Linked DNA regions of Homo sapiens. The protein of the gene in region 1 interacts with the protein of each later gene in a pairwise test. Each region holds a gene or a part of one and is shown on either strand. Other genes may lie near its edges.

Region 1 (7,034 bases):
TGGCATGAAGCCATTGTAGCTCCTTAGATCTGGCCTTTGGACACATGTACGTTTATTTCTCAAGAATCAGGTTTCCTTGCTCATTTTCACTGGGGTCCGTGGCTTTCCAGTATTTTAGGACACTCTTGGAAGGTGTGAGAAAATTCAATTTATTTACTGTCCAAGGAAATGCAAATCTATCTTTCATTCTTTCATATCACAGTCAGCCGCTCTGCACATTTAGCTAGATGGCCAGTTGTTGAGGGGGCTCAAGAGAAAGCCACTAGGGTCCTGTGGTCATATATGTACACCCCCACAATCTCAGCCCGCTGTGCTGCTTTCCAAAATTCTCTCAGAAGTGACTACTTGCAATTATTAATCCCAAAAATATCCAGCCAAAACTATTAAGTAAAGGTCCCTATAATATATTCTAAATGATAGCTCTTTTAAAATAAATTTTTGTATGTGGAAACCTGAAAAAAAAAAAGGAAAAAAAAAAGGAGGCTGGGTGCGGTGGCTCACACTTGTAATCCTAACACTTTGGGAGGCTGAGGTGAGAGGATAGCTTGAGGCCAGGAATTCAAGACCAGCCTGGGCAACAGAGCAAGACCTCAGTCTCTACAAAAACTTAGCTCAGCATGGTGGCACGTGCATGTAGTCCCAGCTAGTTGGGAGGCTGAGCCAAGAGGATCGCTTGAGCCTGGGAGGTCTTAGGCTGCAGTAAGGTATGATTGCACTGCTGTATTCCAGCCTGGATGACAGAGCAAAACCCTGTCTCTTAAACAAAAAAAAGTAGAAAAAAATAATTCTTTTGCCGTGTAAAACCAGATTTTTGCCATCATCTAAATGCATTCCTATGTGAAACCAAACCAGACCTGGTAATTTGTCCAGATAGCCAAGTGATTTCTCAATGTAGCTAGTTTCCTAGGCAGGTTTTTTAGTGTCCTGGTTTATTGCCAGAATGGGAACTCTCTGACCAATCTCACAGGTGCTAACATTGTCAATAAGATCTCTTCAAGATAACAGGTAGAAAATATAACATACAAATAGAGCCTGAGTATGGAGTCACAATTCTAATTTGCCATGTGGCCCTGTGGAGTCATTCATTCCGTAAAGTCTCACCCCATGTATACACACATCAACTAGCATTAAGAAGTGCTAAAAATGCCACTCCTACTTAACCAACAAAACAAAAAAATCCAGCAACTAGACAATGTTTCCTAATGTCTCAAAATTGACCTATCTGTGTCTACAGGTGTGAATGGACTTTCAGATTTGCCATTCTACCATACGTACTTCTCCCTGGTGTGTAGGTACCAGGAACGCTAACTCATACCCTGACTTCGAGTATGGTTTAGTTATTATGGGTTTCTGAAGGCTGTAAGCCCCCAAGAACAGAAAATGTGCCTGAACCACGTTGCACGGCCATGCAGATGACTGCTTATTAAATGTCTTCGAAGAAAAATAGTTATGAATCTAATTTCTCTTCAGGGATCCAGTGTACGCACTCTTGCAAGTCCCCAGCGCCTAATCACTATGCAGTTTTGTGTGTGGGTGGACACATTTTTTTTTTCTCCCATAGTCTGTCCACAGCACTAGGAATTTCCCTCTTCCATTTGATCACAGCTCACCTTTTGTTTCTTGACTGCCTGCTGGCTCAGCATCTTGGCTGAGCTCAGATCTTTTTCTAAGGGATCGCCTTTCCTCAAATTCTCTCAACAAAATTTCTTCTTCTGCCACTGGTCTTTCTTCTCCCTCACTTTCAGAAACTCCATGGGCCTCAAGCTCTGGCAGTTGCTCAGGGTCCTCCTGGGTTGCAGCCTCTTTGGTGTCACTGGTGCAGCTCCTGAGCATCCAGGGATTCGGCCCATCTGCATTCATCTGCACTTCATTCACTACATCAGGGACAAGGAGTTCTTCCACATCTTCTGTGCCTCCCTCCTCTTCCTCACTCTCAGAGGCTACCTGGAGTTTCTGTGTCAGTTCTTTGTTCTTAGACAACTGTTCCTGCATAGCTTGGCGAGCCTGGAGGAAAGAGTCACAGCATGAGAGCCCTGTCATTAGTGACCGCAATAACACCTTTCCTGGTCCATTTCATAAAGCTGCCTCCTCTCAATTTGACTTGGTGAGTATTTCTTACTGGTACCTACTGTTTAAACTGCATATACAATGCTGGGTTAATAGCTATGGTATAAAATGGAAGACAAATTCTTTGTCCTCAAGGAATCAACGGTGAAATAAGATTTTAAAAAGCTCCTCTCCCCCTTTGGACTTGCCTTCAATGCTGTTTCCCTTTCATCTCTCCTTTTCCACCTTGTTCCTGGTCATTTTCCTTTCTGCCTTAGAGATTTTTCTGATGCCTTTTTAGATTCCTGGTTTTCCATCCATCCTCATGGCTCTTCCCCAACTCTGCTTCTGCTAGCATCCTCCAATTCCAGATCTTCTCTCACCCCAAGGGTCTCTTACCTCCAGGTCATATTTGGCCATAATTGCCTTTGACTTGGCCCATTTCCCACTGTTTTGGTGCTTAAGGCTCATTCTTTCCTAGAAAGAAAGGACAGAGTGAGATTTACATCTTTAGTGCCTTCCAAGGAAAGCTGGTTCAAAGGGGTGGGGGTGGGGCAAGAGGTAGTCTCACCATCATTCTGGCCTTTTCAATTTTTTCCAGTTCTTCTAGTGCTGCAGCTGGATTAACCTTCCGCAGCTGCTCAAACTCTTTTAGGGCTTTCTTGGCCTTTCCTTTCTTCACGACTTTGTGATACCTGTAGGGGTAGGAGGGAAGAGTTTAGCAATTTAGCTGAAGCACGGATGTCATAGGCACAAGTGCCCATACTACCCAATGGGTTCCCTAGGCAGGGGGCTGGAATGGGCATCATAGAGCTAGTTGGCTATAGGGAGTCAGTTTGGGACCTGACAGGACTGGCAAGATTCTTGGTACCCACAGTCCTCAGGGTGGACCTCTGCAGCTCAAAGAGTCTCCTTTGCCTCTATAACTCAAGGGAGGGGTAGAACAAGTTTCATTTTTTTTTTTAGACAGGGTCTCACTCTGTCACTCAGGCTGGAGTGCAGTGACATGATCTTGGCTCACTGCAGCCTCCACCCGCTGGGCTCAAGCGATCCTCCCGCCTCAGCCTCCTAAGTAGCTGGGACTATAGGTGCACATTACCATGCCTGGCTAATTTTTGTACTTTTAGTAGAGATGGGGTTTCGCCATGTTGGCCAGGCTGGTCTTGAATTCCTTACCTCAAGTGATCCACCTGCCTGAGCCTCCCAAAGTGCTGGGATTACAGGTGTGAGCCACCGTGCCCAGCCAGTTTTGCCATGTTGCCCAGGCTGGTCTTGAACTCCTGAGCTCAAGTGGTCCATCCACCTCGGCCTCCCAAAGTGCTGGGATTACAAGCATAGCCACCACACCCGGCCGAACAAGTTTCAAAGAGGCAAAAAGGCAGGAAGGAAGCCCTATTGGCCTTAACAGCTCTGGAATTCAGAGCTGATTCTGCAGAACCACTCTGTGATGCCTTGGAAGGCAGAGAAAGTAACTGAATAGTCATCTTTTTGGCAAAACTGTATGAGGTTGGTTTGGGGGGAACAAAAGGCTAGTCACTCCTGTTTGGGACCTCATCTGCATGACTCTAGTTGCTGCATCAAAGGTTCTCTCCAAAGAATTCATGATGAACCACATGACTTTCTTCTGTGGAACCCAAGGCCAGTTCACAGGGGCCTCCTTACTTTTTACTTTTGATTTTCTTCTCTCTTCGAGCCTTGGCCTCATAGTAGGACTGCAGAGCCCGAGCCCTCTGAAGCTCTGCTCGTCGCATCTTTGCCTACAACAAATGAGACTTACAGTGACACCTGGGCCAGAGGACAAATGCTAGGAGAAGCGTGGCATGCCTGGGTGTGCTGAAGGGCCTATGACACACTTACCTCTTCTAGGCTCATGGCTCGGAGAGAGGCCTTTTCCACAGGGGTCAGTAAAGGGTCTGTCACTGGCTGCTTGTTCTTATGGAGGAGGTTGAAAATTTCCTGCTCCAGGGGAGTTCTTGCCTTAAAGAAGCAACAAAACATTCTGAGTCTTAAGCCATGCTCTTACAGCTTTCTCTCTTTACATTCCTATGATTCTCTAACTTATGACACTATAATTGGAATCATAAGTGGATAGGATTGGCTGTTACAGCAAGAGAAGGGGGTTCCAGTCTTGTTGTCAGAAGTATAAATAAAGCCTTATTTGATTCTTATATAAGACAACTTCAGCAGGGAGACGCTGAGGCTACTCTCTAATACTGCTGAGGGGGATCACTGTGTTCAGGTTACCAATATATGTTTTTTTTTTTCTTTTTTCTTTGAGATGGAGTCTTGCTCTGTCGCCCAGGCTGAAGTGCAGTGGCGTGATCTCGGCTCACTGCAAGCTCCGCCTCCTGAGTTCACGCCATTCTCCTGCCCCAGCCTCCCGAGTAGCTGGGACTACAGATGCCTGCCACCACGCCCAGCTAATTTTTTGTATTTTTAGTAGAGACAGGGTTTCACCGTGTTAGCCGGGATGGTCTCGATCTCCTGACCTCGTGATCCGCCCGCCTCGGCCTCCCAAAGTGCTGGGATTACAGGCGTGAGCCACCGCGCCGGCCCAGATTACCAATATATGTTAAACTGATTTCCATTCTCTTAAGAATCTAGGCACATTGCCCTTGAGTCCCTGTATTGTTATGTATCATTTGAAGCACATAACTATTACTTTATAGTTAGGAATCTCAAATTCATATCATAAGCCTTCTTTTAGAATATTTCTAGAGGGAAGGGGCGGTTAGTTTTTTTTTTTTTTTTTTTTGTTTTCTGAGACAGAGTCTTGCTCTGTCACCCAGGCTGGAGTCCACTGGCACTCCAATCTCAGCTCACTGCAACCTCCACCTCTAGTGCTCAAGTGATCCTTCTGCCTCAGCCTCCTGCGCAGCTGGGACCACAAGTGTAAGCCACCATGCCTGGCTAACTTTTTTTATTTTTTGTAGAGACAGGGTCCTGCCATGTTGCCCAGGTTGGTCTTAAACTCCTGGCCTCAAGCCATCCTCCTGCCTTGGCCTCCCAAAGTGCTGGGATTACAGGCGTGAGCCCAGCATGCCCTGTGAGATTAGATCTTAAGATAAGCATTATTTGCCACTGATGGTATACCTAGGACATATATCTGCAAATGTCTCAGAGGGGAAGCCCAACTTTTTTTGACCATAGCCAACTGCTATAAACCATGCATATAAGTGTTCTTGGTATCATTAATTACTGATGAAAGAAAATGAGAAAAAACATGGCATTTTTTTGGCAGAGTCTTCAAATGTAGTTTGTGGTGGGGTGTGTGTCTTAATTTCTTGAGCACAAAAGGATATTGCCTGAAAAAAAATATAGGATGGGCATGGTGGCTCAGGCCTGTAATCCCAGCACTTCGGGAGGCTGAGGCAGGAGGATTGCTTGAGCCCACAAGTTTGAGACCAGCCTGGGCAACATGGTGAAACCCCATCTCTATTTATTATGTTAAAAACAAACAAACAAAAAGACCTTCATGTAATCAGCCTGTTTCCTGATGGTTCAAGTTGAACTCTCCTCATTTTCTAACTTTGGCTCCAATTCCTCAGTTTCCAGTTAATTTTACATGCTAGGCAGAGTATGTATGAAACGAATGAACTGTAAACCAGTTATTCCACATGCTATCATGAGGATGGCTAAATATTCAGGCCGATCATGCCACGGTCCACATTCTGGCAAGGCACAAAGACAGCCCTAGGCAACAGAGCTAGTTTCAAACCTCACACACATATTATGTGTGGTTTTCTTCAATAGCCATATACATCGTGGTCAGTATTAAACTTACAAATATTTGGATAAATGCATAAACGCACATCATCACATGTTACACGATGCTATTGATTTAACCATAAAACTATTCTACTGAATAGTAAAGGTATATGTTCTTCCACTTTTAGTATTTGCAGTAGTGATCAATCTCAGGCTACAAAGTGATTTATACTACAATGTTGTAATGTCCCTTCAATTCAATTCAATTTACAAACATTTATTGATTGTAGCTATATTCCAGGCACTTGTATGGGGTGCTAGGAATACACAATTGATTAAGATAGTTCCTGTCCTCATAGAGCTCACAGCCTTTGAGAGCAGAGACATATACAACACAAACAGCATAACATAATGGGTTAAATACCCTTTATGTTACCCTTAAATAACATAACTGCTACGTTATTCTATAGGGGTAATCACAGAGGAAATTACCATTAAATATTATTGGGAGGTAGGTTAGGCTTAGGGAAGGAAGTGACCTTTTGAATTAGGCTTTGAGGCCTAAGTACAATTCTGTCAGGAGGAAAAAAAATCCAAACAGATGAGCATAAGCAAAAAACACAGACACAGGGAAAGGAGTGGTATGTAATAGAACAACGTGTTGTCCAGCATAGCTAAAATGCTACGTAATTTTATTTTATTCTGTAAGTGAACAGCCTTTGAAGGATTTTAAGCAGGAGAGCAATGATCAACTGTGTTTCAGCAAGAAAATCCTGCTGATTGTGTAGAGGATATATGTAAAGTTCCAAAGGAAAGGTTCAATGAGGGCCTCGATTAGGGCAGTGAAAATGAAAATGAAGAGAAAATAGGAGCATAAGGGCTATTACAGAGACAGAATTTGCAGGTCTAGCCCCCTGTATAAGCTGGCGGAGAGGGAGACAGTGAAGGGGTCAAGAAGGAATCAAATGACTGAGGTTTCCAACCTAAGTGACTGGGGTAGGGAGTTATGCTGTTAACTGAGTTGCAGAATGAAGGGGGTGGTATAGGTTTTGGAAGTCTGGGGAAAGGAAATGCGAAGCTTACTTTGGACTGGACTAAGTTTAAGGTGCATATGGGGGACCCAGGTGATCCCTGCTAGTCACATGGAATATGAGACTGGAGCTTCAAAGAAGGGGTTGAGAGTGATAGTCGAAAGTTATGAAATTTTCACTCCTGTAATCCCAGCATTCTGGGAGGCCGAGGTGGGCGGATCACGAGGTCAGGAGATCGAGACCATCCTG
Region 2 (7,034 bases), on another chromosome or scaffold:
AGCCCTTATCAAAGAACCCAGAATCCAGATTAATGGTAGCAGCACTTTTCCCAAGCCTGGAGAGACATGAAACCCTCTGAGGTGACAAAACAAATTTGCAACTTGCCCCTTTCTCGGAAATCAGAAACCTGTGCTTTTAAGTTCTACAATTCACTCTTGTTTCAGCAAGTCTGGCCCAACATTGCCTAGTTTCCATTATTGTACTAGAGATCCAGAACTGAACCTCAAACAGACCTGCAAATAACTGATTGTCTTTTGTAAGTAATACATAGGGAATTTTAGGGAAGCTGTCTGTGTCAAATTAAGAGATTTGAATTCCAATTCTATCTCTGATTCTGTGCAACCCAAACAAGACACAACTGTCAGTAAGTTTTAGTTTCTTCACATAAAACCTGGGTATAATCACCCATGTTCACATCCTGAGTTACTCTACTCTGATGTCATGAGGAGAAATAAATACAAATACATTAGTGAACTTTGAATTCTCACGAAGCAAGATGCCCTGTAGCTTTATGTCCTGAGTACCTCCAACAGAAATATGGGCTGTTCATAACTCCTTAGATTTATATAACAATATACAGTTTGAAAAATGCCTGCATACATTATTTCATTTGATGGCTACATACAAACTGTAGGAGCTCATAAAGAAACAAATTGTCCATGTTATTGACATAGAAATGTGACACTACAATGAGTTAAATTACTGCCCAGCATCTAAAATCAAGAATTAATTATTAGTAACTGTCTCTCCACAACTCACCTGGTTCTACAACATAGCATTTTATGAAGAATATGTTGATTTTTGTGCCTAGCTTTGAATATACCATCTCCAAAATCACTTGTGGCAGTTGGGCTGGTGAGACAATTAAAGGTCATAATGTTGGTTTTTAGGAAGCAGCAGAAATCTACATATAGTCTGAATTGATAACATGTTTCTTTCTAATCTCTAACATGCCAAAGTATCTTTAACTGAAACCATTTAGAGGCTCCTTTCTAGAAGGAAGTCTGAAAATTTTACTAAAATGAAAGAAATCAGGAACAGAGAGGCTCACTTGTAAGAAAAGATTAAAAATGTGGGTTAAAAACAATTTCAAATGTTCATGTATCTGAAAGGAACAAAAGCAATGTGAAAAATGGAAAACTCATCTTGGTTCAAAATGAAAACCAGGAGAGACAAAATTTTTAAAAGGTAAGTATTTTCCTTCAGTGAACATTGCAGAATTAGAAAATATCCTCCATATCTTCACTTAAAAGTTGTTACTTATCATATTGAGAAACTGGACCAAATAAGCATTAAGAACTATATTATGATAATTCCACATTTAGAGTTCTGCTGTGTCAGGCTCTAGAAATGGAATACAATCTCATAACTAAGTGAACCAATCACAAAGAAGTAAAGTTTCATAGTAAGACTGGTTCATTAGAAAGACCATCTAGGAATTTAATTTATTGACTATCAAATACACTATTATTTGCATGACAGAATATTGATAACTACTGAAGGTGGGTGACAGGCATATGCAGGGTTCTTTAATACAATCCTGTTTACTTTATATATGTTTAAAATTGTCCAAGATAAAAAGTTAAGAACTAAATAACCTTGGCCGGGCACGGTGGCTCACGCCTGTAACCCAGCACTTTGGGAGGCCGAGGTGGGAGGATCACAAGGTCAGGAGATCGAGACCATCCTGGCTAACACAGTGAAACTCTGTCTCTACTAAAAAATACAAAAAATTAGCCAGGCGTGGTGGGGAGCACCTGTAGTCCCAGCTACTTGGGAGGCTGAGGCAGGAGAATGGCGTGAACCTGGGAGGCGAAGCTTGCAGTGAGCTGAGATCGCGCCACCGCACTCCAGCCTGGGCAACAGAGCAAGACTCCGTCTCAAAAAAGCAAAAACAAAACAAAACAAAAAAACAACTAAATAACCTTATTATAAAGCAGCATGGACAAAATTCAGGGAAATTTTGGGTGGCTGCATAGTTTCTGACTTGCCTAAGTCACAATGTGCTAACATGTGACAAACCCTCACAGAATGCCCCAATCTCCACTCTTTACTCAGATTCCCAGCCACAAATGATGCTCTAGGGGCCTTTTCTCCCAATGTCAGACATTTACATAACATCTCCAGGTCCTTCATACAGTTTTATATCCCTTCATCCACTCTTTCTGGTCACCAATGACCATGAACTGACCTGTTATTTCTTGAGTGGACGACATGCTACTAGAACAGGGAAGGTGAGAGAAAGCACAGTTTAGTGGTTAAGAAAACTGGCTCTGGTGTCAGGCCATCTGGGTTATAATTCTGGCTCTATCATTTACTAGCTAGGGGATCTGCAGGTCACTTTGGCTTAGAGATTAGGCTCTTCTCAGATGAATTTCTGACTAATAACGAGAGGAATCAAAGGTGACTTCCTTGATTTTAAATTCTTAAATATTTTATAAAATATTTTTATCAACTTTTCAAAATGAAAGATAATATATCAAATCCCGAAGTCTGTTCCCTCACCTAATTGTGAAATTCATTTCTGATATGATCCATTAACAAGGTACAAAATGGATAGTCAAGTATTTTAAGAAGCAGGGGAGAAAAGAAACCCAGGTTGGTATTACATGTTAGATATGCATCCAATTTTCAGTACAACTGACTATGAATACTAGAATTCATCAACTTGAAGTAATCCAACTGGTACAGTAAAGCAAAAACTGATTTCTCCTTTTATGTCCTCCTGCTCAGAAGAAACCTTCTGTCCATTTTTGGAATAGTCAGGTTATGTGTTACAAAAGAGTTTCTGGGCAGGAGAGCCATGAACATGACCAATGGGGAGAACCAAAGCCAGGGCTGGGCAAAGGGGAAAGGCAGCTTGCCCAGGTATCTTTGCTCTGTTTATCTCCAGCATGTATTATCAACACTGCTTTTTCAGAAACATCAATCTTAACAGTCAGAAATCCCAAAGAGAATAGCAACAAACTGTTAACAATGTTATCTACAGAAACAAAATCCCAGCAATGCTTCTTAAGGTTGTCATATCTCCCAAGAGAGCATAAACAGAGGTCCTACCTCAGACCTGCCAGCCAATGTCCACTAGGATGACAGACAAGAAGGCCCTGCTGGGATAAACACATATTGCCAACATAATAACATACTATGCGCTCTCCTGAGGTCAGGCCAAGTGTGCCAATTAAATTAGATCATGTTTTCTTTCCTTCCTTCCTGTTAAGTTAGAAAGAACATTACCAAGAAACACATGAGAATAATTTATTTTGGCTTGAATGAACGACTCCCTACCCCCACTTCAGTTCTATTTCTTATCTTTTGGCTCTCTACTGAAATGCTTTGCTGTGTATAGTCACAGGCATTTCAGTTATTTGAGAACAACAAAAAAGTTAATCTTTACTAGATAGCTGCAGATTTCACTAAGAAGGATTACAGGAGAGTTACAGGGATAGCAAGATCCCATATTTTACAGTTCTCTAAGCATAATAATGAAATGAGTAAGTTAGCAAAAGCAAAACTTTTATTGAGTAAAAGTAAAGAGGTAAAGCTAAATGGAAAAATTATATACAGTAAAGTGACCTAAAATTATCTTTAAGTATTTAGGTTCAAAATAATAAAGACATTAACTCACACTACATAAAACACATTTTCCTGATTTTACAAGTGTTTATCCTCTCTTAACCAGATAACACTACTATCTTCAAACTCACTGACTATTACAGATGGAAAAATATCGCAGCAAGCTGACGGATCCAGGCTCATCTAAACAAATATAACTTTAGTTCTTTTCCTAGGTGCTAACCTATATGATAACAAATCCAATTATAGGAACCAAATTAGACCAGAAATGAAACAGAAGCTGCAGGGGGTTCATTGGAAGCAACAGGAAAACTTTAACTCAGTATCTTATGTTTGCTAGAAATAATCAAATCTTTCAAATTTTAAGACAAGTATCCATCTCTTAACTATCACCAACTTACAGATATAACTAAACTGTGAGTTATTTTTACTCTGCTAACTTTGCTGAGGTTTAAACCCTTCTCTACTTGACCCTAATGTGTATTTGTCTTAAAATAAAATTCACCTTACAAGAAACCACCAATTTTAAAAAGTATTCTAATTCGTAGTAGTTAACTTAATAGGCACCCCTAAAATCACAGAACAATTATAGAAATCACAGAAGGTAGACATGTAACTATCTGATGATGAAGAGAAATGCAGTAACAGCACTTGTATTTGTTTACATATAAACACTGGGCTGCTGAGTATCACAGCATATTCCAGGGACAGTCAGCCAAAATCCACCAGTGATTATTCTCATAGAGAGATGAAAAGCCCTCGAATGACAAATAAATGGTCTTCAGATTTTGGCTATCACATACAAGCCTGTGCTGCCCAATCAGCATACTAAAATGCTGTCAAGTTCAAAACTCAGCTTAACAGGCTCTTCTAAAACAGCAATTTTTCAAATAGGAGCTATGGAAGTCCCATATGCTCATATCCAAACCTCCACACCCCCTCCTCTACCTTTTACCCTTGGAAATCCTACGGCTGTGAGGAACATAGCTGGAAAATCACGATTCTAAACACAGAGAGGGGCAACAACAAAGAGTTGCTAAAATTTCTTTTTCTTTCTTTTTTTAAAAATAAAATGCCTGGCTAATTCCTGTTGGGTAAAATGTATGCTCAAGTTTGTTTCCAAATATCTCTGAATGTCACTTCTCTGGCTTCCCTACCTGGTTCTTCTCAGTCTTCTAACTAGTCTACTAAGGTGCGGTTAATGTTTTTCCTAGCCAGAATCCATTGGCTAAAAGAAAAAGGGACTCTGAGAAAGAACTGGCTATAAAATGCCCCCAGCACACATGAATCTACATGCTCACAGGTACACATATGCCATGGTGATTGCCACTTTTGGTTTGGAACCCTAAAAATTAAAGCGTAAAATCTCTTTCAAAAGCTATTACTAAAGACAGTCTTTAAAAATGTGGTCTCAAAATTTTACAATAATATACCCTAAACTGTTAATCAACAGTGATCTCTAGGTGGTTGGATTATTAGAGACTTTTTATCTGTATTTTAAAATTTTTCTACAACTCATATATTACTGTGTTATTTTGTTTAGTCTACTTAGTGTAAGTTATGACTTCTCCCTAGGTTTTGATTTGCCAGTATAAAGAAGTGCTAAGTGGTAAGCAAAGTGTTCATTTCCACTTTAGGTATGACAACTTCTAAGGAGTCTCTAATAAATGCCTAAAGAAAGCTTCTTGCCAGTCCCATTCTCCCATACAGAAGGCTTCTGACTTTCTAGAGTACTGATGTAGTAGATGAAAATACATCAAGGCTGGGCGCAGTGGCTCACACCTGTAATCCTAGCACTTTGGGAGGCCGAGGCGGGCGGATCACGAGGTCAGGAAATCGAGACCATCCTGGCTAACACGGTGAAACCCCGTCTCTACTAAAAATACAAAATCAGCTGGGAGTGGTGGCGGGTGCCTGCAGCCCCAGCTACTCCAGAGGCTGAGGCAGGAGAATGGCGTGAACCCGGGAGGTGGAGCTTGCAGTGAGCCAAGATTACGTCACTGCACTCCAGCCTGGGCGACAGAGCAAGACTCTGTCCAAAAAAAAAAAAAAAGAAAAAAAAAAGAAAAAGAAAATGCATCAAATGCCATATAGCAAGTGTCCTGGCAAGGGCACTCAACCTCCTCACTAGCCAAGCGGTCTACAAAGAGGGGAGGGTCAACACAGTTTGCAACAAATGCAGCACATAGCAGTCTCAGAGCCAACCTGGGAGTTCAGGCATGCCATAATGGTCAGGAGAATCCTGGGGGCAAATCAGATCCTCAGATTTTTCTGTAGAATAATCTAGTCAGTGGAGCCAATTACTGAGAAATCCTCCACACTAGAGCAGCTTGACACCCAGACAGGCAGAGTAGAGCAGGCCCAGTCACCTGGAGTTAGTATTACCAAACTGAGCTCACCTTTGTGGCCATGGTCTTCACCCCATGAATTCTCCACTCTCCATTTTGTGAAAGCACCATCCTGATCATCCTGCAAAAAAGTGGATGATGGTGAGTAGTCTGAAGCCAGATTCTCCCTGCTGAGGTGTCATATAATTTTAGCTCTTCTGTAGCCACTTGAAAGAAACAGCCTGCTCTATACAGGCAGCCTGCTCTATACAGGCAGCCTGCTCTAAACAGTACTTGGTCAGGGCTATATATTTCCTACGATCACTAAAGGGATACTCCAGTAGAAATGGAATTTGAATCTCTTGGGGTAAAAACATAATAAACTAACAAAGCAATAAATACTATTTCATCCTTTCTATTCTATTGTATACATAAAATAGGCATGTAAAAATGCTACTTGACTAAGAAAAACTATATTAACCTACTAAAAGCAGTAAACATTTGAAGCTGGGGATTCTTGCTTTTAATCAATCAATATTGATTAAAGCAAATGCATCCTACTTTATTTTAGGAATAATTCTAAAACCTGGTCAGAGTCTTTTTTAAACAAAACAAAACAAACTCATCATACTGCCTGATTTTCTACTTGGGGAAACCAAATAATGATACTCTCCCAAATGCATTCTTTTACTGATCCAGTTACACAAATATTGAATTTCAAAGAAGAGACTGAATGGCAAAGCAAAAGTAAAAAGACCATTTTCATAAACAAAAGCCAGGCACTTCTACTGTTCTCCTTCTTCCATCTTCATTATTAAAATAAGCTCAATTTTGGTCTTCTTAAAGGGACAGTGATACTCATCACAACAACCTTCATTTACAGCCTTTACTATAGTGACACAGAGAGGGACAAGAGGAAGGCTCCATTTGGGAAAAGACTTTTTTCTTTCATGTTTACCCAGGACATTTACTGATGTCAAGGCAACTTAAATCTTTGTAGCATGAGAAGAGCACTCACCCCTGTATTATCGCCTAATGATTTCATCTGTCAACTCCCACTTGCAAATAACTATATGATGAGTCTCATCTATATGGGATTTGGTTCTCTTTGGCTCTGCTAACCCAAACACTCC
Region 3 (7,000 bases), on another chromosome or scaffold:
CTGCACTCCAGCTTGGGTGACAAAGTGAGACCTTGTCTCTAAAACCAAACCAAACCAAACCAAACAAAATAATATAACAACAAAAAGAAACTAACAGGAATGGTGAGGTGCCCAGGGACTAGCAACACATGAAACCATCACCACCTCTAGGCCTGGAAGGGCAGGTGAAGGAAGCACTGTTTCTGCAGCTAGTGAGAGCTGGACCCGGGATAGAGGGCCCCCAACAGCTCAGCTGTGGCTTATAACTGTGTCTAGAGAAACCAGCCAGCTGGCACCATGGCTCAGAAAAGAGGAAGCCAATGGACTAGATAGTCCAACCCCTCATTCCCCCAACCTTCTGCTCTCCTACCATTGGCCAAACCCCAACCAGAAGCCAGACCGCAAAGAAACCTGGGTGACGCAACCCTCAGAGGCCAGCCCCCTTTTCTGAGACAGCACAGATGAGGGGGGACATAAGGGCACATGATGGATTTGGGGGTGGGGTACAAATGGAGAAGAATCAGCAGATGGAATGAGCTCCTGGTGGTCCATGGCTCAGGATGGGGAAATGTAGGGGAATGAGGCCCGAGCAATATTAATTGCTTTTGCTCTTAGAGATGAGCTTTTATGACAGATACAAGCTGACTTTGAGCCATCAACAATGAGCAAGTTTCCCCCAAAAACTTCCTAGAAGCCAGACAATGGTGTCTGGTTCTCAGCTGAGAATCGGGCCTAAGCTTCAATATGCCAAGTACCCTGATTTCTCTTTTCCTTCCTATTTCTGAAACCAGGCTCTTAAGTAATTGAGAAAGTCACTCAAGATGGGAAAGTTTATTTTGGACTCAGATGATAATCTTTTCTCAGCATTTGTGTTTCCTTTCTGAAGCCTTTTGGGGTCACTGGCCTGGATCTCATGGAATCCTCCCTAGAGGGGCTGTTGACTGAGCTTGACCTGGTTGGCAGAGAGGATCAAATTCAGCCATGTATGGGCCTGGGCCTTCTAGATGGCCCTCTTCTAAGTGGTGGTGACCCAAGGCTCCTCTTGTCATTGGGTGTAACAACCACAGGAATCTAGGAACTCTTTCTTCTGTGTCTGCTCTGGCTTCCTTGCATCTACTAATTTCTAGCAGCCACATTTTATCCAGGCTTCTTGGCTTTTGTGCAAGAGAAGGTGACTTTGCATTTCCTGTCTAGCCACCTGCCATAGTGGAAAGAACCCTAGACATGGGGTTAGGGGCCCAATTTGAACCCCAACAATTTTTACATACTATCTCTGTGACCTAACCAGACTCCATGTGCACTTCAAACTCTTTCCAAGACAGACATCCAAAGAGGCAATGTTTATTCACCCAGGATGCTTAATAGAATGATAATAACAACATTGTGCATGTTTTTCCAGCACTCTGCTTTTAACTGTCTCATGACAGTCTCATTACAGGTGAGAACACTGAAACACAGGGAAGGGAAGGAACTTGTTCAGGTCAGGGCTGAGTACCTTTGAATCCAGAATGTCTTGTTCCAAATTCAGTGCACTTTCCCTATACTAGGCTGTGTCTTGTCCAGTGAGTCCAGCTAGAAGGGGCTAGGATAAAGGTTATTGTGATGGCCAAAGCTTTGATACTGTGACCCAGAATGCTGTACACCCTTGCACTGGATCACACCTGATCAGCCAATGATAATGATTTCCATATGGGTGTCTGTTTTGTCTTTCAGTCATGAGGCAGTGAAATCCATGTTTCATACCCAGATGAGGTGGGTCAGTCCTTTCAAGCATCCCTGCTCCTCTGACCCATCTCCCTCACTTACCTGGTTTGCTGGGGCCACCCATTCCCGAGACTTCTTGGCTGCCATCTGTCCATAACGTCCTTCTGCATCCCAGTGTCTCATCTTTTTAATGCATTTAAATTAACCATTTTTTCCTTACCCACATATCACCTGCCTTGCCTTTGCTTTATTTTGCCTCCTTTCTTCCTCCCTTTCATGCCTCACTTCCACTGCTCTTCCAACCTTGAAGCATGAACCCTTGTAGTCCACATCGTCTTAGCAAAAGCCTATCTTGTCTCCCTAAACCCTGCTTACCATGAAATGGGGACTGTGACTGACCTACTAAAGGACTGTCTGTTTATAAGCCCCAACTTCTCACCCAGACTGGGCTCCAAAAAATAGCATCTATAACTGATATTTTTAATAAATATTTATTCCTAGTATTCCGCTTACTGCTTCTGACCAACTATGAATTAGTAGTTTAGGTTAAATTTTACTTTTCTTAATGACAACCAAATGGCCCCAGATGGGTCTTAGGGTGGGGTTGACAGCTCTTGAAATAGTCTTTGGATTAAGAACAAAATGCTGTGTGAGAGTTTGGGCTTTGGGAATGCTGGGGTAGAAGTGGTTGGTGCACTTGAGTCTGTGCTGGTGTGCACTGCACGTGAATTTGGATGATTCACATCATCTCTTGGACTTGGGTTCCACATCTGTAGAGAAAGGTCAAGAGGAGAGTGCTCTAGGGACCTTCCTAGTTCTAAGTCTCTGCAGCTCTGGGCTCTGTCCCTAACCTCTGTGAGAAATACTTAAATAGGCTGCCTACTTGTGGCTCAATTAGCTGAACTATGGAATTGCAGATTGTTTGAGGTAGAAGGGGTCTGGGGTCCAGAGTGGGGATGAAGCTTGTCCAAGAAAGCTGGTTGGAGGGAGAGCCAGGGCTAAAACCCTCATCTCCTGCCTCCTGCAGTGCTTATTTCAGGCTGGTCTCCATTCCCCTCCCCCAATCTCCAGTTTCAAGTAAGGTAAAATCAGGCATACATATATGCATCTTTTCATATTTAAGTGACATTAAGTTAATTTGGTTTTGAAAAATTTCTAATACCATTGAAATAATCAGACACCCTGAGACCGTGCAAGAATTGGCACAATCATGATGGGAAGTAAAATTACTGGAAATTCCAGCCCAATTGGCCACTGATTCACTGTTGCATTAGAATATGTCACTATGGTGGGCTGCCTCTGTAAAAGGGACTCGTGGGGGCAGAATTGGTTACTTACCCAACAGAGTTAAACACCAGAGATCCACACTCTATCCTGGCCCAGGAGTTTCTCACACAGAATTATTAAGGACATTAGTAGAGTCCTAAAAATCAAGGGCTTTGATGCATCTTAATTCCCATGCATTGAAGACCCAGGAAGCAGCCTGAAAGCAACCAGGCAAGGCTACTATGTTGAGGACAATTGTGAATGGTATGAAGTACCATTCATGATGGTATGAAGTTCCAATCCTGGCTCTGTCCCGAAAGTGTTGTGGGACCTATCCCTCTTGTGTCACTATCCTCATTTGTGAAATGAGTGTCCCTGCAGCTCAGACATAGGATTCTAAGCAGAACTGTGAGCAGAATCACCCGGCCTTCCTCTCCTACTGGCCATTCATCACTATAGTAACCGCTGCTGCTGAAAATTGGGGTAAGGAACAAAGGAAAGGAGGGACAAATGGTGAGCAGGCACTTCAGTTTTGCAGGCTCCACAGGAGTTGTTTTTATACATATTATCACATTAATAGGCATGTCAGTGTATCTCACTTTGGGAGAAGGATTTTTATCCATAAGTGGTCACCTCAGATGCCTGGATATGAACGTCACTACCATTCAGCAGTTGCTCCCTTGACTGTCACCTCAGACCACAGGGAAGGGGCTGCCTTTGACTGGGACTCTTCTCAGGTGCTGGAGTCTTGCCCTTGCTTTTGCATGCTGTCCAACTGAGCCTTTCTGGAAGGTAAAAGAAGTGACCACGGATCTCTGTGCAGATGCTCTCCCCAGCCCTCTGCATCCTGCCACTTCCTCTCTGGATGATGGCTTCCTACTAGGCAGGGAGGTCCCAGGATTCTGGGGAGATACAGGAGCATGGTTTAGGACCCAGCTTGCAGGGCCCACCACTTGTTTTCTGTAGCTGTCTGGCCTTGTGGTGGAGGATGCATGGCTGAGAGGTCCACGGACTGACCTCCACCTGTTTGGCTCAGCTGGATGTCAGTTCTGCAGTGGGTTTTTACCTTCAACATCTTCAGTACCTATCACATTAGGTAAGGTGGGTAGTGCTGTAGCTAATTGAGGGTCAGGTCTAGGCTGGAAGGGAACTGAAATGCCATCTGCCCTTGCTAACTACCTTCAACCAGTAAGCCACATCTCCCAATAAACACCAAAGTGAACAATGCAGTAAGCTAACAGAGCCAGCCTTTGTTTATTTGCCTTCAGTGATCTCCAGTGGGCTAAGTCTCCTTAGGTAATTTGGCCTGAACCATTGGACTGAAGGTTAAGAGGTGACTTCAAGTTAGACACAGAATGGGCCAAGGTTGTGGGTAACCGAATGTGTATGTTTCTGAGAGAGTAGTCCCCAAACTAACCAGAAAATATTTTTAGGTTTTTTCTTGTTTGGAGTTTTTGCCTTATTATTTCTCCCTTCCTTTGTTACAGACAATCAGTAGCTAAAAAGTAAAAGGAGGCTTACGGGCATGGACGTTCTGTCTGGTTTTATGACCAAGCCCAGCTCTCTACTAGGAGTCTATTTGAGCTGATTCCACAGTAGTTAACTGAATGGAATGGATCAGACGGTTCTAAGGAATAGAGTAGAATTACCCAGAAAATCATCCTTTAGGTCACATTTCTCCTTTTGTGGGGTCAATGGGAGTTTCTGAGTGTCAGTGAAAGTCATTGTCTTTGAGACCCAACTCCATGAAGCCTTGGAGAGCACGGATCCCATTCCAGTAGGCCTGGATTCGATTCACCTTTTCCTTTCACCCTGCTTCAGAATTGAGCTCCGGGCCCTAGGCAAGATCTCAGAAGGAGAGGAGCTGACTGTGTCCTATATTGACTTCCTCAACGTTAGTGAAGAACGCAAGAGGCAGCTGAAGAAGCAGTACTACTTTGACTGCACATGTGAACACTGCCAGAAAAAACTGAAGGATGACCTCTTCCTGGGGGTGAAAGACAACCCCAAGGTACACACAGCCCTGCTGCTGAGGTGTTTGTGTCTGTCTTCTCCGGGAGCCAGTCACAGGTGGTTTCACAGCTAATCCGTGTGCCCTGCCCATGAGCTTCCTAGGGAGCAACTGTCACCCTGGGGAGGAGGCAGGGCATGAGAGCAGAGCACCGCAGGTAGGTCCCAGCTAGGTCCTGGCACTGCCACTTGCCAGGTGTTTGAGTTTGGGGAAGTCACCCAGTTTTCTCAACAGTAAAATAGGAATGATGGCCCCACTGCAAGAGGTTGTTATAAAGATTAAAGGAGATGACGTGTGTAAAAGGAGTGGCATACGGAGTAGACACTGGAAATTTTGGTTCCTCCTCTTACTCCTTTATGAGTTGAGTGATGTTGAGAATTTAAGGTGTTCAAATCAGATGGGCAAAGAGATTTATCATCTGGTTATCAAAAAGATATTCCTAGTCCCATGGGGATGGGCAGTGTGGAGACAGGGCTAGGTTTAGATTGGTCAACATCCTGAACTCCTGGGTAGCTGTTGCCAGTTGATGGTGAGTCTGTTGAGCAGCAGAGGAAGGCTTGCTGAGGGGAGGTCAGGAACCCAGCTGAGCTGGGAGAGAGAGCTGAGCCGCCAGGTGTCAGAGTAGCCAGTTAAAGCAACAGAGCAGAAATGAGAGTGAAGTATTTAATCACTTACTGCAATGGTGTAAGCAAGAAGCTAAAACCGAAGAAAGCACTGACTCCTCTTGTCCATTTCCTCCAGTGAAGCTGTGCTCAGGGGGAGGATGAGGGGGATCAGCACAGGCATGGAGGCGTCTCACATGACATTCTCTTTTATAAGGACGCTAGTCCTATTGGGTTAGGAGCCCACTCTACTCCAGTATGATCTCACCTTAACTAATTACATCTGCAATGACCCTATTGCCAAGTAAGATTTCATTTTGAGGTAGCTTCTGGGGCTAGACTTCAACATATGAATTTTGGGAGGATACAATTTAACCCCTAACACTGTGTGTGCTACCATTTATGAACATTAAAAGGCACACACACACACACACACATGCACACCCATGTGCATGCAAGCATACTCGGTTTCCATACAGACAGAAGTAGGAGGACCAGCGATGCCTGGGGTGAAGAGATTGACAGTCACCCCTCCCAGGCAGAGACAAAGCAGTTGGGGTCCAAGGATTTATGTTTTCTATAGGAACAACCTCTTTTCAGAGAATCAAAGGTGTGTATTCTAGGACATGTATATTGGATGCATGTGAGAGGCACTGAGCACTGCATCATGGGCGCTACAGAAAAGAATTTGTTATTGCACTCACCCTCACCCCGACCTTTCAGAACCTGCGGATAACATGTCTTATCTGTGAGCCAGTCAGCCTTCCCTCCTGGAGACTGGCCCTGAGTATTTGTTTCATAACTTGCTTCCACACTGCTTAATTTATTTATTTTTATTAAGAGGCCAGACCCTCTTTTCTCTATTCTAAAATAAAACAACCATGCGATCATTTCTTTAGATTTTTTGATGTTTACCTGGCAGTTTCAATAGTTCAGTAGGCTATGTGTGGCCTTTAGTTCCCATCCCTTCACTTTAGATATGCTGTTACCAGCTGGTGACAATACACACACATCTCCAGTATGAATTGCAGAGTTGGCATTTCTCTTGATATAAAAGATTGATGATTTCTGCTTGAACCTACCTGAATTCAAGGCAAAAGCTTTCTATTATATTTTATATCAAATTGAGTTTCTCTATCAAAACAACTCAAAAATAACTCACCTATACTAACTGAGCAGAAAAAAATTGAGTATATCTTTTTAAAAGCAAATGCTTCTTCAGGCATTAAAAAAAGGCCATCATAATGTAGTAGGAAGAATACTGGAAGAAGAATTATGAGGCCTGTGTACTAGTACTGGCTATGACTCTAAACATCTGAGCTTGGCCAAGTCTCTTCCTTCTGGGCCTCAGTTTCCTCATCTGTAAAATGGGGAGTTGGACTAACTTATTAACCATTTCCTCAAGCTGGACTATCTACAATGTCATCACAATCATTTC
Region 4 (7,034 bases), on another chromosome or scaffold:
AGAAAATACCTACCAAAGGGCACTGGGACGAGACTGCCTGCAAAGCCCCCCACAGGCTGCACGTTTCTCCTCATGGGATGACAGCATCATCCCCACAAGGGGTCAGAGCCAGGCCTCTCAGCTCCCCCAACAATCGAAAAAACCCCACTCGCCATGGCATCTCCCTGTGGGCTCAGAACTTCCTTAAACTTCCAAATGGGCAGCAGCTACCCCCTGCTGCTCTGTGAACATGCTCACTAACACGTGCAGAAAGAGGAGAGGGACAGGAACCATCGGAGGCCAAAGACAGGCCCCAAATGGTGACAGCTGGGGAGGAAAGCGGGGTGGGGATGAGAGCGTTTGGTCGGACGAGGAGTACACTCAGGGTCCGGACCCTGCAGCCTCCAACAGCCTGTGCAGGTGTGGTGGCGTGGCCAGCAGCCGGCAGCCGGATCTGTGCTGCACTATCCAGATGCACGGGGGTGGGGAGGTCAGATTTTAAGCCGAGACAGCAACCTATGAAAAAGCAGATTCTAACTGCCAATGCTGTGCGGCAGGGGCCTGCAAACTACAGCCCCGGGGCCAAACCCAGGTGCCACTTCTTCCTGCAAGTACAGCTCATTGGACACAGCCACGTTCACCAGGCAACACACAGACCGACACACCTGCGGCTGCAGCACCGTGCGGCCAGCACCGCCCAGACTCCTCATGCTGCCATTTACGGAAAACGCTGGCCTAGCCTGCTCTGAGGGCCGGGTGACTCTAATGCCGCAGGAGGGTCGCTCTGATTCCTCCCGAGGCAGCACAGCCCCGGCAGAGGGACTGATCTGCCCTGCCGAGTGCACCCCTCCCGGCACCTGGGCCCCGAGGCTCGGGCCTGCCTCGCCTGCCATCTCTCCGGGGCCTCCAAGTACTCCCCACGCTGATGGGCACTTGGCAAGTAAGTCAAGATGAACAGAGTGCACCCCTCCCAGCATCTGGAGACCCCGCCCCTCCCTGGCCCCTGCACGACTACTGGACAAGGCTGCCGTTTTTGTACCCTCCCAAGAGGCAGTTCTGCTCCTCCATCAGACTGCTGCCTGGAAAAGCTCCAAATTCTATTTAAAACTGACAACAAAACAGTAAGTTTTTAATGAAGGAACACAACAGTTCCACAGGAGCTTCATTTCTGACAGCGGTGTCTGAAAAGTAATTCAGCTCAGACATGGACCCAGGGCTGGGCTGCCTGTTTTAGAGGCTCCACTGCATACTCACACCGCATCAAGAAAGCCACAGGGAAAATCAGCTCATGACAGGGTCAGTCAGGCTAGACGGGTAGCACCTCACCAGGCCCCAACCCCACTCATCTCGTGGGCACCACGACCATGTGGCACAGCGAATGGGAATGCGCACCCCCAGCCCCCACCCTCTGCCCCCAGGGCATGCTCTGGGCCCTAGCTCCGCTTGGTGACAGGGAGGGAAGGGGCCTCCTGCTGTCCACACCCAGGAATTCCATGGACCCCTCTGCGTTCCCTAATGGCGTCTTACTTCTTGGCACCCCTTTCTGGCAGGCAGACACCCACTCAGTCCAGGTCCTGCCCACTACACACTTGCCCTTCACAACCAGAGACACTCCCTATATGGTACAGCCCCTCAACAAGACGGCCGCCGGCCTCTCACTGACAAGCCATCCCCCGCACACCACACTCAGCGAACGTGCTGGCAGTGCGACTTACAAATTTGAGCATGTTCCAGTCGAACACGTAGTCATAGGAGAAGCCCTGGCGATGGAACAGATTCCGGAAAAGCTGCCGCAGGTACGAGTAGTCAGGCTTGTCGTCAAAACGCAAGGAACGGCAGAAATTCAGGTATGTGGCAAATTCGGCTACAAAACAAGAAACTCAAAGCTAACTCATGAAACCCAACTGCGACTCAAGGTGTCTCTGCCAACGTCGCTGTCTACCTCCTGCTGCTGCACACTCAAGGGGAGAAGGACAGATGCAAAACACCTGTCAGATTTCTAAGACCTGAAGCCTTGAGAAAGCATCGAAAAGTATTCAAGTCACGGCCGGGTGCGGCGGCTCACGCCTGTCACCCCAGCACTCTAGGAGGCTGAGGAGGGCGGATCACGAGGTCAGGAGATCAAGACCATCCTGGCTAACACAGTGAAACCCCATCTCTACTGAAAAAAAAAAAAAAAAAGTTCTAGAGCGTGGTGGCGGGCGCCTGTAGTCCCAGCTACCGGGGAGGCTGACGCAGGAGAATGGTATGAACCCGGGAGGCGGAGCTTGCAGTGAGCCGAGATCACGCCACTGCACTCTAGCCTTGGCGACAGAGTGAGACTGTGTCTTAAAAAAAAAAAAGAAGTCATAAAGCACAATTTAGTTTCATTTGAGGTGTGTATCCTGGGGCAATCCTACAAATGCAAAGGAAATCTCCCGAGCTCCTGGAGGGGGCCAGAGAGGGCAGCCACTGCAGAGAGAGGCCCCACCACTGCCTGTCCATCCCTTTCCAGCCACTTGGGGCCCTGAGGCTCGGGCCTGCCTTGCCTGCCATCTCTCCAGGGCCTCCAAGTACTCCCCACGCTGATGGGCACTTGGCAAGTAAGTCAAGATGAACAGGAGGGCAGGCTGTTACCTCCATACACAAAAGCGCCCCGCTTTCCTGCCACCACCCCTTTGGAAGGTGAGCAACTCTTCTGACAAAACCCAGACTGAGCCGTCTCGGCACACCCGACACATATGCAACCCCTGTGAGCAGCTCCGCTGAGAAGAGGCCTCCAGAGACTTACAAGGGTAGCCTTTACACAACACTTCGATGGGGGTGGACATTTTCTTCTCGCTAATCCTTTCGTATTTCTGTCTCTTGGTGGCAGCCTTCAGCCCCTGCCAGGGGAGAGAGCCCAGGTTGAAGTACATTAGCACGTAGCCCAGAGACTCCAAGTCATCTCTTCGGGATTGTTCTGAAAAGAAAAGGGAAAGGCGTGAAGAACGGCACTTGCGTGCTCACGTCAAAGCAAAAGACCCGGCTGGCCGTTCCAGTGGAGACTAGCCTCAGACACACATGCCCAGATCACTCCAGCTGGCACTTCCAGTGGAGACGAACCTCGGACACACATGCCCAGATCACTCTCACCCAGAGCTGCCCCTCATGCATACTAAGGAAATTCCCAAACACATCACAGGTGACTCAGAAATGTCCCAGCATCCGCCTGCCCCCATACACCTGGCAGTCACGAGCCAGCCTGTCTGCCGCAAAGGTCTGATGACACGCTTGCAGCCCCAGCTCCCCGAGAGGCTGGCCTCTCCCTGGGCTGAGGCATGGACGCGCCCAAAGGCACCCCAGGTCAGTGACCCCATGCCCAGGGGCTCACCAATTCCAAGGTGCGTGTTGATGGAGGCGTACCGCGCCGTCCCCGTGAGGTTCTTGTTCTCACGATAGGGGATGTGCTGGTGGGTGCGTGCATCCCGGTACTTCTTGGCCAGCCCGAAGTCGATGATGTACACCAGGTTGCCCTTCTTCCCCAGGCCCATGAGGAAGTTGTCTGGCTTCACATCCCGGTGGATGAAGTTCTTTGAATGAATGTATTCGATGCGACTGATCTGTGAGCAGAGCAAGGGCGCGAGATGGCACCCCAGGGCAGTCTCAGGGAGGGACCGCTCAACTGTGGGACACTACATCAGTGGCTGCATTGTTCCTGCCCCTCAGCCACAGCAGGGTAGTTTAACAATTAGCGAGGGGGATGCCGAACTGACCAAATTGTTCCCCCAGGTGCCTGCAGCAACCCTCCACACTCCACCCTCCACAGGCCTAGGCGCTTTGCCTTCAGCTCCCACAAAACAGAGAGGTGAGGCGACAGAGAGGGGACAACCCGCCACTAGACATCGGTCTCTCCCAGCACTGTTCTCTGCACAGACTACACACCAGGATTAGCAGAGAAACTGCACGGAGGTGCTTAGGAATCACGTGTGTTCCTGAGAGACTGAGGAACCCACTGAATGGAAACGTGCTATGCTGGTACCGAGAAGGTGGCCTCCAAGCCAGTGAGCTGAGCCACCAGAGCCTCGAGAAGCCAGTGAGCTGAGCCACCGAAGCCTCCAGAAGCCTCGAGAAGCCAGTGAACTGAGCCGCCGGAGCCTCGAGAAGCCAGTGAGCTGAGCCGCCGGAGCCTCGAGAAGCCAGTGAGCTGAGCCGCCGGAGCCTCGAGAAGCCAGTCAGCTGAGCCGCCGGAGCCTCGTGAAGCCAGTGAGCTGAGCCGCCGGAGCCTCGAGAAGCCAGTGAGCTGAGCCGCCGGAGCCTCGAGAAGCCAGTGAGCTGAGCCGCCGGAGCCTCCAGAAGCCAGTGAGCTGAGCCGCCGGAGCCTCGAGAAGCCAGTCAGCTGAGCCGCCGGAGCCTCGAGAAGCCAGTCAGCTGAGCCGCCGGAGCCTCGTGAAGCCAGTGAGCTGAGCCGCCGGAGCCTCGAGACGCCAGTGAGCTGAGCCGTCGGAGCCTCGAGAAGCCAGTGAGCTGAGCCGCCGGAGCCTCGAGAAGCCAGTGAGCTGAGCCGCCGGAGCCTTGTGAAGCCAGTGAGCTGAGCCGCCGGAGCCTCGAGAAGCCAGTGCAGTGCGCTGAGCCGCCGGAGCCTCGAGAAGCCAGTGCAGTGCGCTGAGCCGCCGGAGCCTCGAGAAGCCAGTCAGCTGAGCCGCCGGGGCCTCGAGAAGCCAGTGCGCTGAGCCGCCGGGGCCTCGAGAAGCCAGTCAGCTGAGCCGCCGGGGCCTCGAGAAGCCAGTCAGCTGAGCCGCCGGAGCCTCGAGAAGCCAGTCAGCTGAGCCGCCGGAGCCTGGAGAAGCCAGTGCGCTGAGCCGCCGGAGCCTCGAGAAGCCAGTGAGCTGAGCCGCCGGAGCCTCCAGAAGCCAGTCAGCTGAGCCGCCGGAGCCTCGAGACGCCAGTGAGCTGAGCCGCCGGAGCCTCGAGAAGCCAGTGAGCTGAGCCGCCGGAGCCTCGAGAAGCCAGTGAGCTGAGCCGCCGGAGCCTCCAGAAGCCAGTCAGCTGAGCCGCCGGAGCCTCGAGACGCCAGTGAGCTGAGCCGCCGGAGCCTCGAGAAGCCAGTGAGCTGAGCCGCCGGAGCCTCGAGAAGCCAGTGCGGTGAGCCACCGGAGCCTCGAGAAGCCAGTCAGCTGAGCCGCCGGGGCCTCGAGAAGCCAGTCAGCTGAGCCGCCGGGGCCTCGAGAAGCCAGTGTGCTGAGCCGCCGGGGGCCTCGAGAAGCCAGTCAGCTGAGCCGCCGGGGCCTCCAGAAGCCAGTGAGCTGAGCCATCGGAGCCTCGACAAGCCAGTGAGCTGAGCCGCCGGAGCCTCCAGAAGCCAGTCAGCTGAGCCGCCGGAGCCTCGAGAAGCCAGTGAGCTGAGCCGTCGGAGCCTCGAGAAGCCAGTGAGCTGAGCCGCCGGAGCCTCGAGAAGCCAGTGAGCTGGGCCGCCGGAGCCTCGAGAAGCCAGTGAGCTGAGCCGTCGGAGCCTCCAGAAGCCAGTGAGCTGGGCCGCCGGAGCCTCGAGAAGCCAGTGAGCTGGGCCGCCGGAGCCTCGAGAAGCCAGTGAGCTGGGCCGCCGGAGCCTCGAGAAGCCAGTGAGCGGAGCCACCGGAGCCTCGAGAAGCCAGTGAGCTGAGCCACTGCAGCCTCAAGGCTGAGGCTCAGCAAATTTCCATTTCCTCTGTGAATTAATGGCCATAATAATGGCAAGAACAGCACAAGCGAGTGGCTGATTCTATCAGACAGCAAGTGTGTGCCAACTGTCAGGAAACAGTCCTTACCATTTGGTCAGCAAGCAGCAGGACGGTTTTGAGGCTGAATTTCCTGGAGCAGAAGTTGAAGAGGTCCTCCAGGCTTGGCCCCAGCAGCTCCATCACCATGACGTTGTAGTCCCCCTCTGCCCCGCACCATCTGATGGTGGGGATGCCCACTAGGCAAGGAAATCAGACACAGTGTTTCAGTCCAGGCCCTGCCTCAGCTCCACACTAAGTCTGCACTGTGCACACCAAGGGGTCATGGTGACAATCCTGAACGGGGGAGGGGTGGTGGAGGTAGAAGACCCCGGCAACGCCGCTCCTCAGGGACCCATCCTCGAGATTAGGCCCCATCTATTAGCAAATGGCCTGAGGCAGACGTTGGATGAGGGCCAAGCAGACAGGAGCTGTAAGGGGGACAAGGAGGGGATCGAAGCCCCACCTCCCCGACTCCCGTCTTCTAGGGCAGGGGGGCAGGAGACACAGAAAGCAGCCACGATGTGGGAAAGAAAAGAGCTCAGGCATAAAGGAGCAGCAGAGCCCGCCAGAAACGTCACACAGGAGATGGGAGGAGAGAAAGCAGCTACCGTGGGTTAGGTGAGAGAAGAAAATATGTTCAATTACTCCGATGTTGGTAGAAGTATTTGACTGGATAAGAGAAAAGCAAAAGCAATGAAAACTTTTTGGGGATTTACACAGTAACCCAGGATTGAAATATACAAATCAGGGAAGTGAAAATAAAGACACAATAAATCCAACAGGAAGAATTTAAAGATGGCTGCATAGTATCAGTGCTGAAGGCATAATCAACACTATAAAGGCACACGGGCCAGGTGCAGTGGCTCATGCCTGTAATCCTAGCACTTTGGGAGGCTGAAACGGGAGGACTGCTTGAGCTCAGAAGTTCGAGACCAGCCTGGATAACAAAGGGAGACCCTTGTCTCTACAAAAAATTCTGGAAATTAGGTGGGTGTGGTGGCACGCTTCTGTGGTCCCAGCTACTTGGGAGGCTGAGGCAAGAGGATCACTTGAGCCCAGGAAATGGAGGCTGCAGTGAGCCGTGATGGCACCACTGTGCTCCAGCCTGGGCCACAGAGCAAGACCCTGTCAAAAAAAAAAAAAAAAATCCATTTTAGAAAAAATGGGTGAAAGACCTGGACACTTCACCCAAGACGTTACGTATGAAAAGTCAACGACCACAAGAAGATTCTCAGAGAGATGGAAAACACATGCTGGTAAAAACATGCACAGGAATGTGCACCGCAGCCTCACGCCACAGTCAAATTCAAATGCTGCAGCAACAGGTGGGTTTCTCAA

The links.
Region 2: the proteins of UTP14A (region 1) and BLMH interact in binary tests that used the Homo sapiens proteins (3 or more experiments, as listed by UniProt).
Region 3: the proteins of UTP14A (region 1) and SMYD1 interact in binary tests that used the Homo sapiens proteins (3 or more experiments, as listed by UniProt).
Region 4: the proteins of UTP14A (region 1) and CSNK1D interact in binary tests that used the Homo sapiens proteins (3 or more experiments, as listed by UniProt).

Annotation. Positions count from the first base shown.
Region 1 is NC_000023.11:129,916,164-129,923,197, reverse strand, and holds part of UTP14A (U3 small nucleolar RNA-associated protein 14 homolog A), read right to left. Parts: intron 4,024-7,034; coding exon 3,904-4,023; intron 3,804-3,903; coding exon 3,709-3,803; intron 2,742-3,708; coding exon 2,618-2,741; intron 2,524-2,617; coding exon 2,446-2,523; intron 2,396-2,445; exon of another isoform or gene 2,256-2,395; intron 2,005-2,255; coding exon 1,611-2,004; intron 1-1,610. UniProt on the Homo sapiens protein: May be required for ribosome biogenesis.
Region 2 is NC_000017.11:30,260,912-30,267,945, forward strand, and holds part of BLMH (bleomycin hydrolase), read right to left. Parts: intron 6,044-7,034; coding exon 5,974-6,043; intron 1-5,973. UniProt on the Homo sapiens protein: The normal physiological role of BLM hydrolase is unknown, but it catalyzes the inactivation of the antitumor drug BLM (a glycopeptide) by hydrolyzing the carboxamide bond of its B-aminoalaninamide moiety thus protecting normal and malignant cells from BLM toxicity.
Region 3 is NC_000002.12:88,091,825-88,098,824, forward strand, and holds part of SMYD1 (histone-lysine N-methyltransferase SMYD1), read left to right. Parts: intron 1-1,692; coding exon 1,693-1,731; intron 1,732-4,770; coding exon 4,771-4,960; intron 4,961-7,000. UniProt on the Homo sapiens protein: Methylates histone H3 at 'Lys-4' (H3K4me), seems able to perform both mono-, di-, and trimethylation. Acts as a transcriptional repressor. Essential for cardiomyocyte differentiation and cardiac morphogenesis.
Region 4 is NC_000017.11:82,249,685-82,256,718, forward strand, and holds part of CSNK1D (casein kinase I isoform delta), read right to left. Parts: intron 5,894-7,034; coding exon 5,745-5,893; intron 3,561-5,744; coding exon 3,332-3,560; intron 2,921-3,331; coding exon 2,750-2,920; intron 1,844-2,749; coding exon 1,695-1,843; intron 496-1,694; exon of another isoform or gene 14-495; intron 1-13. UniProt on the Homo sapiens protein: Essential serine/threonine-protein kinase that regulates diverse cellular growth and survival processes including Wnt signaling, DNA repair and circadian rhythms. It can phosphorylate a large number of proteins.